Linked DNA regions of Homo sapiens: region 1 is linked to region 2. The links come from fine-mapping of genetic effects on gene expression. A gene starts in region 2. The other region holds a variant in brackets. All regions are shown on one strand. Distances are from middle to middle.

Region 1 (5,373 bases), 24 kb after region 2:
AGGCACTGCAGATGGGTTGGATAGAGTGACATTGCCTGCCAGACTGCTTCCCAAGACAAATCATTCAGGAAAAGGGTTGGGTTTGCTACCTGGCAGTGCTTTCTTAAGTGGCATAGGGGCTACAGAAGAAGGAAAGGCTACAGTATGTAGGAAGCTTATGGTGTTTGCAATTAGAATGTGGGAGTCTGACTCTTGGCTCTACGACTTTACAACTGCTTGAGCACACTACTTAAACCTCTTCAAGCCTCAGTTTTTTCTTCTATACAATGAGGATTGTACTCCCACCTCATGCAGTTGTCAGGATAAAATGAGGTAGGCCTGTGCTTGGCATGCTGCAGGTACTCAAAAATGGCTCATGAATGTGATAAGAACGATACTAGAGGCAGAAATCTCCCTGCATCCCTCTCACCCCTGCCCCCTAATTCCTAGCCCACATCTATTGTAAATGACTTACCAAACGGGATGGAGCCTGGGAAGAGATCCTCCCACTTCCAATCACAAGGGATGCCAGGCCCTGCTGATTTCTCCCCTTTGGGCACTGTCCAGAGACCCCAGGAAGAAGTAGGTTCGAGTGCCTGCAGGCAGCCCTACCTCCAAGTGTTTGGGCTCTGGTGCCCCACTCTCTGAGCCCACCCAGAAAGGCTGGAGGGAGGGAAGGGAATCCCTGGGGCTCTTCACAGCCTCCAATCTCCTCCTCTCCTTCCCTTCCATCTGGATAGCAGGCTCACAGGCTGGGAGCCACATGAAATCAGAAATCCCTTTTGTTCCACAGAGACTCCCCATATTTTCCCAAGACACGAGGCCAAGAACTGCAAAGCCCAGAGTCTCAAAGGTAGCAGTTCAGGCTGCTAGAAGCATGGGATGGGCATTCAACCCCCTTCTAGCTGTCTGCTGAAGCAGGGCCTCTGGTCAGCTAGACGAGAGATCTTGGGGGACCCTCGGGTTGCAGCAGTGCTGACAAGGACTGGAAGATGGTTAGAGGAACCCACACTATACACAAGGTCACACAGGCATGTGCATATGAACTTCATGCAGTTTCTTATATTGACCCCCCTCATACATGCCCTCTCACACACACCCCAGCTTCTCACACCAGAGAACACATTTCACTCTCCCGCACTTGAAGCGGCACACACACTCCTCCCATCTGCCCAAGCTTAAGCTTGTGAGGAAGAGTAAATGGGGTCACAGGAAGTTTTGTAAAAATTCAGAGCAGAATTCAGGAAACCATCAGCTTCTTCCTGCCCATCATCAGATAAAGGATTGCTTCCAGGGGCTAGGAGAACAGCATGCTTAATAGAATAGGTCTTGAGTTGATGATTGCCCTCCTAGAGGTACAGAGACACACCCCAGAGTGTTTAGGAATAAAAAGCCCTTCTAAATATCAACATCATGCTGTCATGATGCGTGATGATGTGAGCTCACAGCAGTATCGATAATTTGGGAGATCCTGGAGAGCTGTTTCAAGGGTAGAGATGGGGGAGCATGTTGTCATGTTCCCATGACAGCCTATCTCATTGCCATAGCAACACAGCTCTGCCTCCATCCTGTGGAGTCCTGGTTTCCGTAGTGGGTGGAACACTGTGTCACTTCACTGTATGGAGACGGGTCCTACGATCCCTCTGGGAAAGAACATTTTCATCCTAGACTGTGCAGTATAGGGGTACCCCGAGGCTAAGTAGTGCTGTGTTTTCTTGTCGGCAGGAGGGTGGATTTCCTGGGGTTTTCCCACTGACGAGCTCTACTTCTTCCTACCACAATTTCTACTCCCCAGCTATTGCACCCCAAAGTAAGTCCCCATGAGGCAGGCTACGCTTTCTTGATCTGCACCTGGCTGACTCAGATGGAAACCCTGCCATGGCAGAGAGGCATGACAGGTCAGTGGGGAAGACAGGCTCTGGTATCAGGAGACCTATTAGGCTTGGAGCTCATTGCCGATGTGTCTGGAGCGAGTGGTTTATCCTTCTTGACTTTAGGGTTCTACCTGTAAAGATGGGGCTAATGCATTCCCATCACCCTGGGTAGTTATGAGGATGAAGGAAAGCAATATGTGTAAAGACCCAACCTGGCTCCCTGGAGGGAAGGGGGAAGAGTGAGTGGCTGGTCCACTGTTGATGCCCTTTGCATCCCAGACCCCAGCAGGGGTCTGACTGTGGGGCTCAGATGATATTTAAGCCTCAATGGACAGGGCAGTGATTGGCATCATCTTCCAGATCAAGCTGCCCAACTTCCGTGGGAAAGGGAAAGGTACTTAATCAGTCCATCTCCCCCATGCCTCCCTTATCCCCCAGTACTACTCAAAGTGTGGGCAGTGAGCCATGACCCTCTGCAAAATGTCACCCATCCTCAGGGAGATAAGTCTGGGCATTCTGAGGACATCTCCAGAAATTTTTATAGAAATTTGATATCGCTGAAACATTCCAGCAGCATACAGTTTGGTCTTCTCTTTTGTTGTTTTTAAATTTTTCAGATTTTCAGTGATCCATTTTAATTTTTTTTTTTAAGTACCAATCTGCAATGGATTGGAGAACTAACCGCCTGTTCCTTCATTACACCTAGTGTGAGAAGCACTGA[C/T]CTTAATGACACCAGAGGCCTCTTGAAATCAGCTAACCATCCATTGAGGATGGAAGGGGAACAGCCTCATCAGAGCTGCTTGCAAAAATGAGCCGCAGACCACACGTCAGTGAGTTACGCAACATTTCTTTTATTGCCTCGGGTTGGAAGCTCCAGCGCCCCCTCCCTTAGCCCTACGTCCCCGCCCCCCGCCCCCGCCCCGCATGCTCTGACTCCTTTGGGGTCTGAAGTTCACTGCCCCGCACCTGCGCCCTCAGCCCCGCCCAGCGCTTCTGCCGTGGTTCCCTGGTGCCGCCTCCCGCTTGCCGAAGCGCAGGCCGAAGGAGTTCCAGTTGTAGTTCGGCAGGTCCTTCTCCCGCTGCACCAGCACCGCGCCCTGGGGTGCGGGGATCTGGCGGCTGTGGGGGGCGGACAGGCCCGGCTGCTGGGGGCTCCCGGAGCTCTCGGGGGGCGGGGACAGCGAGGTCCCCCGACGGCTCAGCCTGGCAGTAGCAGCTGGCTTCCTCTCGGTGCACGGCAGGCTCTGCTCCCCGGGGGCCAGGAGGCCCAGGGATTCTAGCTGCTGGCCTAGGACAGAGGGCACAGAAAGATGAGGCCGGGGTCCGGGAAAGATGGCTTTGCAACACCTCCTGTCATCCCATCCTATCCTTCTTTTCCTTCCTTGACCTTTTGGAAGCTCGGAGCTCAGTGCCATGCGAACCAGCACGATCACCTTAGCTGGGATGATTAGGCCCTAGGCGCCTCCCTCTTCCAACATAGCTTTGATTTAGAATGTTTGCCAGAATTATCTTAAATAACTCTCATATTACGTTACTTCCTTTTAGGAAACAAACAGGGTAGGGCATGGAAATAAAGAAAACCAAAGTATTTGCTGAACACCCAGCTCTGGGCCCCTTCCTGGCTGTGAGCAGCCTGGGCAGTGGGGCCATGTTAATTCATCTCTGTATCTCTCATAGTGCTTGAAACAGTGGCTTGCTCATAGTGGGGCCTCAATAAATGCCTGTTAAATACATAAAAGCTAAAAACGTGTAGTAACAGAAATCGAGAAAGTGGAGCTAAGACATTGTGGCCCCACACACCTGTGTTCCAACACTCGTCTTTGATAAGAATTGTGACCACCCACCCCCCCAACCCCGCCCAATAAGCTACATAAGGACTCAATGAGAAACAAAAATTATCTAGGTCACCTTAACTGGCTCTCTTCCTCCATCCTGGGTATAACTTCTCTCCTTCATTCTGAGGATTAACAAGGCTAATTTGGAAGGCACTTCACATGCAAGGCTCATTAAGTTCACTGTACTTTTTGGCTGTAAAATAGGGCAACTAGCTCTGTGTAGACAATAACCCCAGCCCATTGCGGCAAGAGATTAGTGGAAATGAGGCCTGGTGTGTGAATGGGTGTGAATAGATGTGCTGGGGCGGCAGTTGGCTTTGAGCCCTGCTCCTCCGTGCCCTGGCACAGTCTGGAAAAGAGGAGTGTGGACCTGGTCCAGAGTTAATGGCAGTCGCCTGCGAGGTCCCTCAGCCCTTGCCCAGGGCCTGGCTGAGGTAGGAGGAGGATGGCTTCCTCCCCAGTTGCGCACGCTAGACCAGTAGTAAATCACTGTTCAGGCTGCTGTTGGTGACCTCACCTAAAGCCTTTTGCCAAAAAGAGCCAACAACCCTATATCCCTGGGCAGTGTGGGGTTATTTTCTGGGGTAGCCTCCCTCACCCAGAAAAACGCCTGATCCCAGGACAGAAGACACGCTTGGCAAACGACACCCGGGGCCGTGTCCTCTGTGCTCTGGAAGGTCTTATGGGCATATACGATGACATCAAATGTGTAGAGGGCATGCCCCAAGTTTTATAGCTGGGGGAACTCAGGTCCAGAGAAGCTAAGTCATGGGTTCTAGTTTGCCCAGAAAGCTGACACCAGGAAGTGTGCCAAGCCACAGCTCCTGACTTGGGGACTAGTATTGTTCTAGCTTGTGCCACTCACCAGACACACTCCTGGGGAGCTCTGACACCTGCTGGGTTTCCACAGTGTTTGAGCGACTCTGGGGAAATCTCTTTACCTCTGTGGGTCTCAAATTTTCCAGCTTATCAGTTCCCCAATGAACTGGAGACAGTTCATTGTCTCCAAAAGGTTAATAGGTATCAAATATCTGCCCTTTGGTTTAGGTTTTTTTTTTTTTCCAAATTCTCCACAAAGAATCTGAGGTCACCGATAAAGCAAGGTTGCATATGAAGTTTCTTCTCAACATCGGCACAGAGAGGTTGCTGACGTAGAGCAGAGAACACAGTGTGAGGAAACCATGAAAGAGCTCAAGGGTTAATAAGCCCTGGAACCTAGGTGGGCGGACTGAGGCCATCACAGAGGCAAGGCATCCGTCACTTGCAGGGTTAACAGGACCCCCTCAATGAGTTGCATGTGTGCCAGTCTTAGATTTCCACCAAATGCAATGTTAAACTCACACCAGTCGACTAGATGGAAAATACGGGAAAGCTCATTTTGCAACAACCCACTTGCTCCCTCCCACTCCTTTCCCCAGAGGATACATACCTGTGGGTCTAGAATTCCCCACAGAGGCCACCTTTTCTAATGGCTCCCCAAAGTGGGTGGCACAGAGGAAAAGCAGTAGCTGCCAAGAAACCAGTGAGTTCATCTTGGTGAGAAGAGGCAGGTCCTAGAAGTGCCTTGAGGCTGAGACAGAGAGAGGGAACAAAGACTAGGTCAGGCACAGGATCTGGGCTGGGTGCTGAGGGCAGAGCCCAGTGCAAAAGGGACAGTCCTCCAAGAGAGGGGCAAGTTCTTGCCT
Region 2 (5,373 bases):
TACTTTCTTCTCAGTGGCTAGTCCTCCTATACTCACACTACCCTTTCCTTCCTACATCCTTCTTGCGTCCCATGCATTCTACTTACCCCCATTTTGCCCATGAACATGAATGCAACTTTTATGCCTATCAGCATGGTATTGTAACAGAAATGATTTGTTATCTTCCTATCACAGGTTACTGTTACCAAAATATTTTCACAATCATTATTTTATTTGCTCTCATAAGGTGGATGATTTTATTACTCCCACTTCACAGCTGGGAACGTGGAGGGTCAGAGGTTTGGCCCCAAAGAGGTTGCATTTCCCACTGTTTACTCACAACAGCCTATGCTTTGGACCTTTACTTCTTGCCATTTCCTTTTCAGAAAATCCTTTCCTTCTTCCCTTCCTTTTCCCCCCAGTTCTTTAGTCCTCCAAGGCCCAACATGTACCCCCACCTCCAGGAAGCTTACCCCAAGGCCTCCAGCCCACACCGGCCTCACCTTCCCGTGGGCCTCAGCTCTGTTTTTCCTTGGGTCTCACAGCCCACACTGTACAGCTTGTGGAACTGGTGCCGTACGGTGGTGAAGACAGTGGTTGCAGGGGGCATGCCTGAATCCCCTTACCACTTATGTGATTCTGAGAAAGCTACCTAACCTCTCTGGGCCTCTTCTAAGTCTCCATTAACCCCTCTCTAACAATGGGCCTAATGGTAGTACCTACCTCAGAGTCACTGTGCAGATGAAACCATGCGACCACTGCTCAATAAATGTAAATTGTAGGTGTGTATATGTACATGTTCACCTTGAGAATGGAGCTCATTCATTCAGCTGTCCCAAGTGCCTCGCATGATGCTCTGCACATAGCGGGTAGCAAAATTCCTATAATACTGTTTCAAAAGCTGGATTCCCCCTCCACCCCTTGCCCAATTCCATTCTTTTTCTCTTTTGGATAACAGCAGGGGAAGATGTTTTTACTTTCCTCTACCTTTATCCTGGAGTGCAGCTGCTTTGAAGCACCCATCCTCTTACCCAGTGCTCACAACCCAGCAATTACTCTCCGAGAGCCTCAGAGCAAGGGAAAGCAGTTTCGGAAGCAAAAGGCCCAGTGTGTGTTGAGGCTTAGCCTCTTACATATCACCTCCCTGAGCCTCAGTGTCCTCATCTGCAAAGTGGGAATGCTGAGTTGTTGGGGGCATGACTTGAGATGAGACATGTGAAAAGATCCTGTGACACCCTAAGCATTTTATAGGCTTAGCAACTATTACCATTATTAAAGTGTGCCTCCCTACCTTCAGGACTGCTGGTCATATCTGCTGTCCCCAGATTGAAAACCCCTTTCTCTGTGAGGCCTTTTCTCAAATGCTGTCTCTTCCCCTTCTTCAGTCTTTTTTTTTTTTTTTTTTTTTTTTACATAAGGTCTGGCTCTATCACCCAGGCTAGAGCACAGTGGGTCAGTCTCTGCTCACTGCAGCCTCCACCTCCCAGGCTGAAGTGATGCTCCCACCTCAGCCTCCCGAGTAGCTGGGACTACAGATTTGCACCACCACACCTAGCTAATTTTTGTATTTGTACAGACAAGGTTTCACCATGTTGCCTAGGCTGGTCTTGAACTCGTGAGCTCAAGCGATCTGCCCACCTCAGCCTCTCAAAGTGCTGGAATTACAAGCATGAGCCGCGTGCCCAGCTTCCTTCTACAGTCTTAATGAATCACTTGTTCCCACAAGGCCTGGCACCTAGGGGATGCTAAGGTTTTCTCCTTCTAATTGTGGGCTACCTAAAGCCTTGTTTTTTTCTTTCTTTTTTTTTTTTAGACTGAGTTTTGCTCTTGTTGACCAGGCTGGAGTGCAATGGCGCTATGTCGGCTCACTGCAACCTCAGCCTCCCAGGTTCAAGCGATTCTCCTGCCTCAGCCTCCCAAGTAGCTGGAATTACAGGCATGTGCCACCACGCCCGGCTAATTTTGTATTTTTAGTAGAGACAGGGTTTCTCCATGTTGGTCAGGCTGGTCTTGAACTCCTGACCTCGGGTGATCTGCCCCCCTCGGCCTCCCAAAGTGTTGGGATTATAGGCGTGAGCCACTGCTCCCGGCCAAACCTTGCTTTTGATATTTGTAAGAATCTATCCTGTAGTACTAACAGTAGCTGGGCTCTTACAACGTGCCCAGCTTTCTATGCCTTATCTCCTAAAATCCCCAAAGCAGCCCCATCAAGTAGGTACTGTTATTATCATACCTGTTTAAAATGATAAACTGAGACTTGGAGAGGTTAAATAACTTGCCCATGATTCCAGACCTAGTTTGTTCTGCTAGTGAAGCAAAATTTAAATGAAGGCAATCTAACTCTATAAGCCTTGCATTTAACCACGATATCAAGCTGCTTCCCTGGTACAGTTAACTGTACCCATGCCCCGACCCCCGTCTTTTTTTTTTTTGAGATGGAGTCTTGTTCTGTCACTCAGGCTGGAGTGCAGTGGCACGATCTTGGCTCAGCAATCTCCACCTTCCGGGCTCAAACGATTCTCCTGCCTCAGCTTCCCGAGTAGCTGGGGATTACAAGTGCCTGCCACCATGCCCGGCTAATTTTTGTATTTTTAGTAGAGATGGGGTTTCCCCATGTTGGCCAGGCTGGTCTCAAACTCCTGACCTCAAGTGATCCGTCTCAGCCTCCCAAAGTGCTGGGATTACAGGCAGGAGCCACCGCGCCCAACCACCCATGCCCTTCTTAATATTCAGGCTGTGAGCTCCTCAAGTGCAAGGGGCATGTCCTAATACTTCTGAGTTCTCTACAGTGCTTAGTTAGCATGGTGCTCTGGGCAGGAAGCAAAAGTCACAGCTTCTAGACCTGACTACTAGTGTCATTTATTGGGCAAGTCACTTGACCTCTCTGAACAGGTCCATACTTCCCTGTCCAGCTGATCGTAAGGACTGAATGACACCGCATGTGGAAAAGCCAGGGTGTTGGGAAGGTGGGAACCCTGCACCCCTCCCACCCCTTCTCTGCCTGAGTTACCAATTACCGTTTAAAGGTGGTGGTGTCTGTCGGGAGACCAAAGGTACAGGAGCCCCAGAGCAGCAGCAGCAGTCCCCAGCGAGGCATCCTTCTCCATCCATCCATGCTTCCCTCAGTCTGGGGCTCTCTCTGAGATCCACTGAGGTTCTGTGGCTCCCTTAGCCCTTCCCCTTTTATACACTCCATGCATGGGGTGATTGCAATTCTGCTCTGCCCTGATTTATTACCCTGGGGTAGATGGCAGGGCAGTCAGCAATAAATCTCACTGCGGGACAGAGCTAGGTGGGTGAAGGGTACCCAGGTTTCCGGATGGGGAGCAGAGGGGCTGGAGGAAGGACAGCTGTGGGAAAGCAATCTTGTGTCCAGTGACGCTAGCAGCCCTCTATCTGGCTTGGCCCTGTGACCCCTGGAGCAGGCAGAGGCTGATGAGAAACAGCACTGCTCAGGGCTAACATCAAAACTGGGACAAGCGTAAAACCTAGGTTTCCAGCTCCCTAGCCCAGACCCAACCCCTATACCCTGGAAGCTCCATTCTCTATATTAACTTTGGCTTTGTCCCTGACTGGCCTCTCCCAGGCTACAGCCCAGTTTTCCCATCTAGAACATGGGTGAATCTTCATGACTGGTTTCTTGGCAGGAAAAGCAACAGCTGGTTTAATTATAAGAGTAGAGGGGCCAGGCATGGTGGCTCACACCTGTCCCAGCACTTTGGGAGGCCAAGGTGGGTAGATCACCTGAGGTCAGGAGTTCCAGACCAGCCTGACCAACAATGGTGAAACCCCATCTCCACTAAACTACAAAAATTAGCTGGGTGTGGTGATGGACACCTGTAATCTCAGCTACTCAGGAGGCTGAGGCAAGAGAATTGCTTGAACCCAGGAGGCGGAGGTTGCAGTGAGCTGAGATCATGCCACTGCACTCCGGCCTGGGCAATAAGAGTGAAATTCCATCTCAAAAAAGAAAGAGAGTGGAGGGAGACTTAGCATGACTGACTCCATTTTGCCTCTGACCCCCAGGGGTATTATCCTTTAGGCTAAAAGCTTCTGCTTAGCTCTGTACATAGACCAGCTAATTATAGGAGTTTAGCTTGCAGTTCAACTTTAAAAAAAATGGTAACAGTTCCTTTCCCCAAACTAACCCCCAAGGAGATAAGGAAATATACAGACAAATAACAATGTTATGTTAAAGATGTATAGGAACATTGTGACCTGACCTAGAAAAAAGAAGTTTTACAACGTCCTCAGACCCTTGCTGGCACCCAGGTGTCTGTGGTCATCAGTCACCTCTTGATCCCAATCCCCTTCTTCTTCCCCTTCCCTTAACATAAAGAAGAGCCTAACGTTCATGCTGACTTCAGATGGTTCTTTATGATGCTGGTCCACCATCTTCTTGGTTTTCTGGTTCTCTGAATAAGGTAGCTTTCCTTGCCACAATACCTTGTCTCTAGACTTATTGGCTGTTGTGTGGCAAGTGATACGAGCTTGGACTCAGCTACTCATAGCCTTGAACAGTCTTTCTGTGTCTGATTACATTCAAGTATTGTTTTCATCAGGTTTGACTTACAGGTTATCTAAATGGGCTTCCCATAAGAAGAAGCAATCACACTACAGAAAGTTTTTCTTTGCGTTTTTGGTAGCTGGCCTAAGAAACAATTATTTTAGGCTGGGAAACAGTGGCTCATGCCTGTAATCCTAGTGCTTTGGGAGGATGAGGTAGGAGGCTCACGCTCACTTGAAGCTCGTTCAAGACCAGCCAGGGCAATATAGCAAGACCCCATCTCTGAAAAAAATTAGCTGGGTGTGGTGGTGCGTGCCTGTAGTCTTAGCTACTGGGGAGGCTGAGGCGGGAGGATCACTTGAGTCCAGGAGTTCAAGGCTGTAGTGAGCTATGATTGTGCCACTGCACTTTAGCCTGGATGACAGAGTGAGACCCTGTCTCAAAAAATAAAAGGAAAGATTTTACATTTTCTCAAGATAATTCCTCATTCTTGTTATCTTTATCAGGTTTTTGATTACTTAGGAAAACTGAGCTTTAGAAAGGTTAAGTCTTTATATTCATGTAACTTTCTGTATTGCTATTAAAGTCTTTTAATTATCACTTTTGTGAAATGAATAATTATTATTTTACAAAGACCGGCGGTTCTGTTTTGATCAAATGGTTTGAGGCTTTAACATTTTGACAAATGTCCTCAAAATCTAATCCTAAATTAAGTTTGAAATGTTGCTAATTCTTTATGTTTTGTTTTCCAGAGTCAAGAAAGCCTTTTTTTTTTTTCTGAGACGGAGTCTTGCTCTGTCACCCAGGCTGGAGTGCAGCGGCGCAATCTCGGCTCACTGCAAGCTCCACCTCCTGGGTTCACACCATTCTCCTGTCTCAGCCTCCCA

Evidence for each region. PIP is the estimated chance that this variant, and not a neighbour inherited with it, causes the effect.
Region 1: its variant is the best candidate, but not a certain one, in a credible set for the expression of REN in testis (GTEx, PIP 0.57).

What each region holds. Positions count from the first base shown.
Region 1 is chr1:204,187,657-204,193,029 of GRCh38, forward strand. It overlaps KISS1 (KiSS-1 metastasis suppressor), which reads right to left. Exons shown (of 3, transcript NM_002256.4): 2 at 5,118-5,258; 3 at 2,685-3,141. The coding sequence starts at 5,220. The coding sequence ends at 2,828. Among named protein-coding and RNA genes, the nearest start is that of KISS1, 6.1 kb to the right of the region's middle. RefSeq lists an enhancer at 1,826-1,905. The variant C/T (reference allele first, on the strand shown) is at 2,575.
Region 2 is chr1:204,163,200-204,168,572 of GRCh38, forward strand. REN (renin) reads right to left here and starts at 3,138. Exons shown (of 10, transcript NM_000537.4): 1 at 2,997-3,138. The coding sequence starts at 3,094. RefSeq lists a silencer at 1-2,994, promoters at 3,123-5,373, 3,135-3,286, 3,287-3,721 and cis regulatory regions at 3,198-3,220, 3,205-3,512, 3,382-3,397.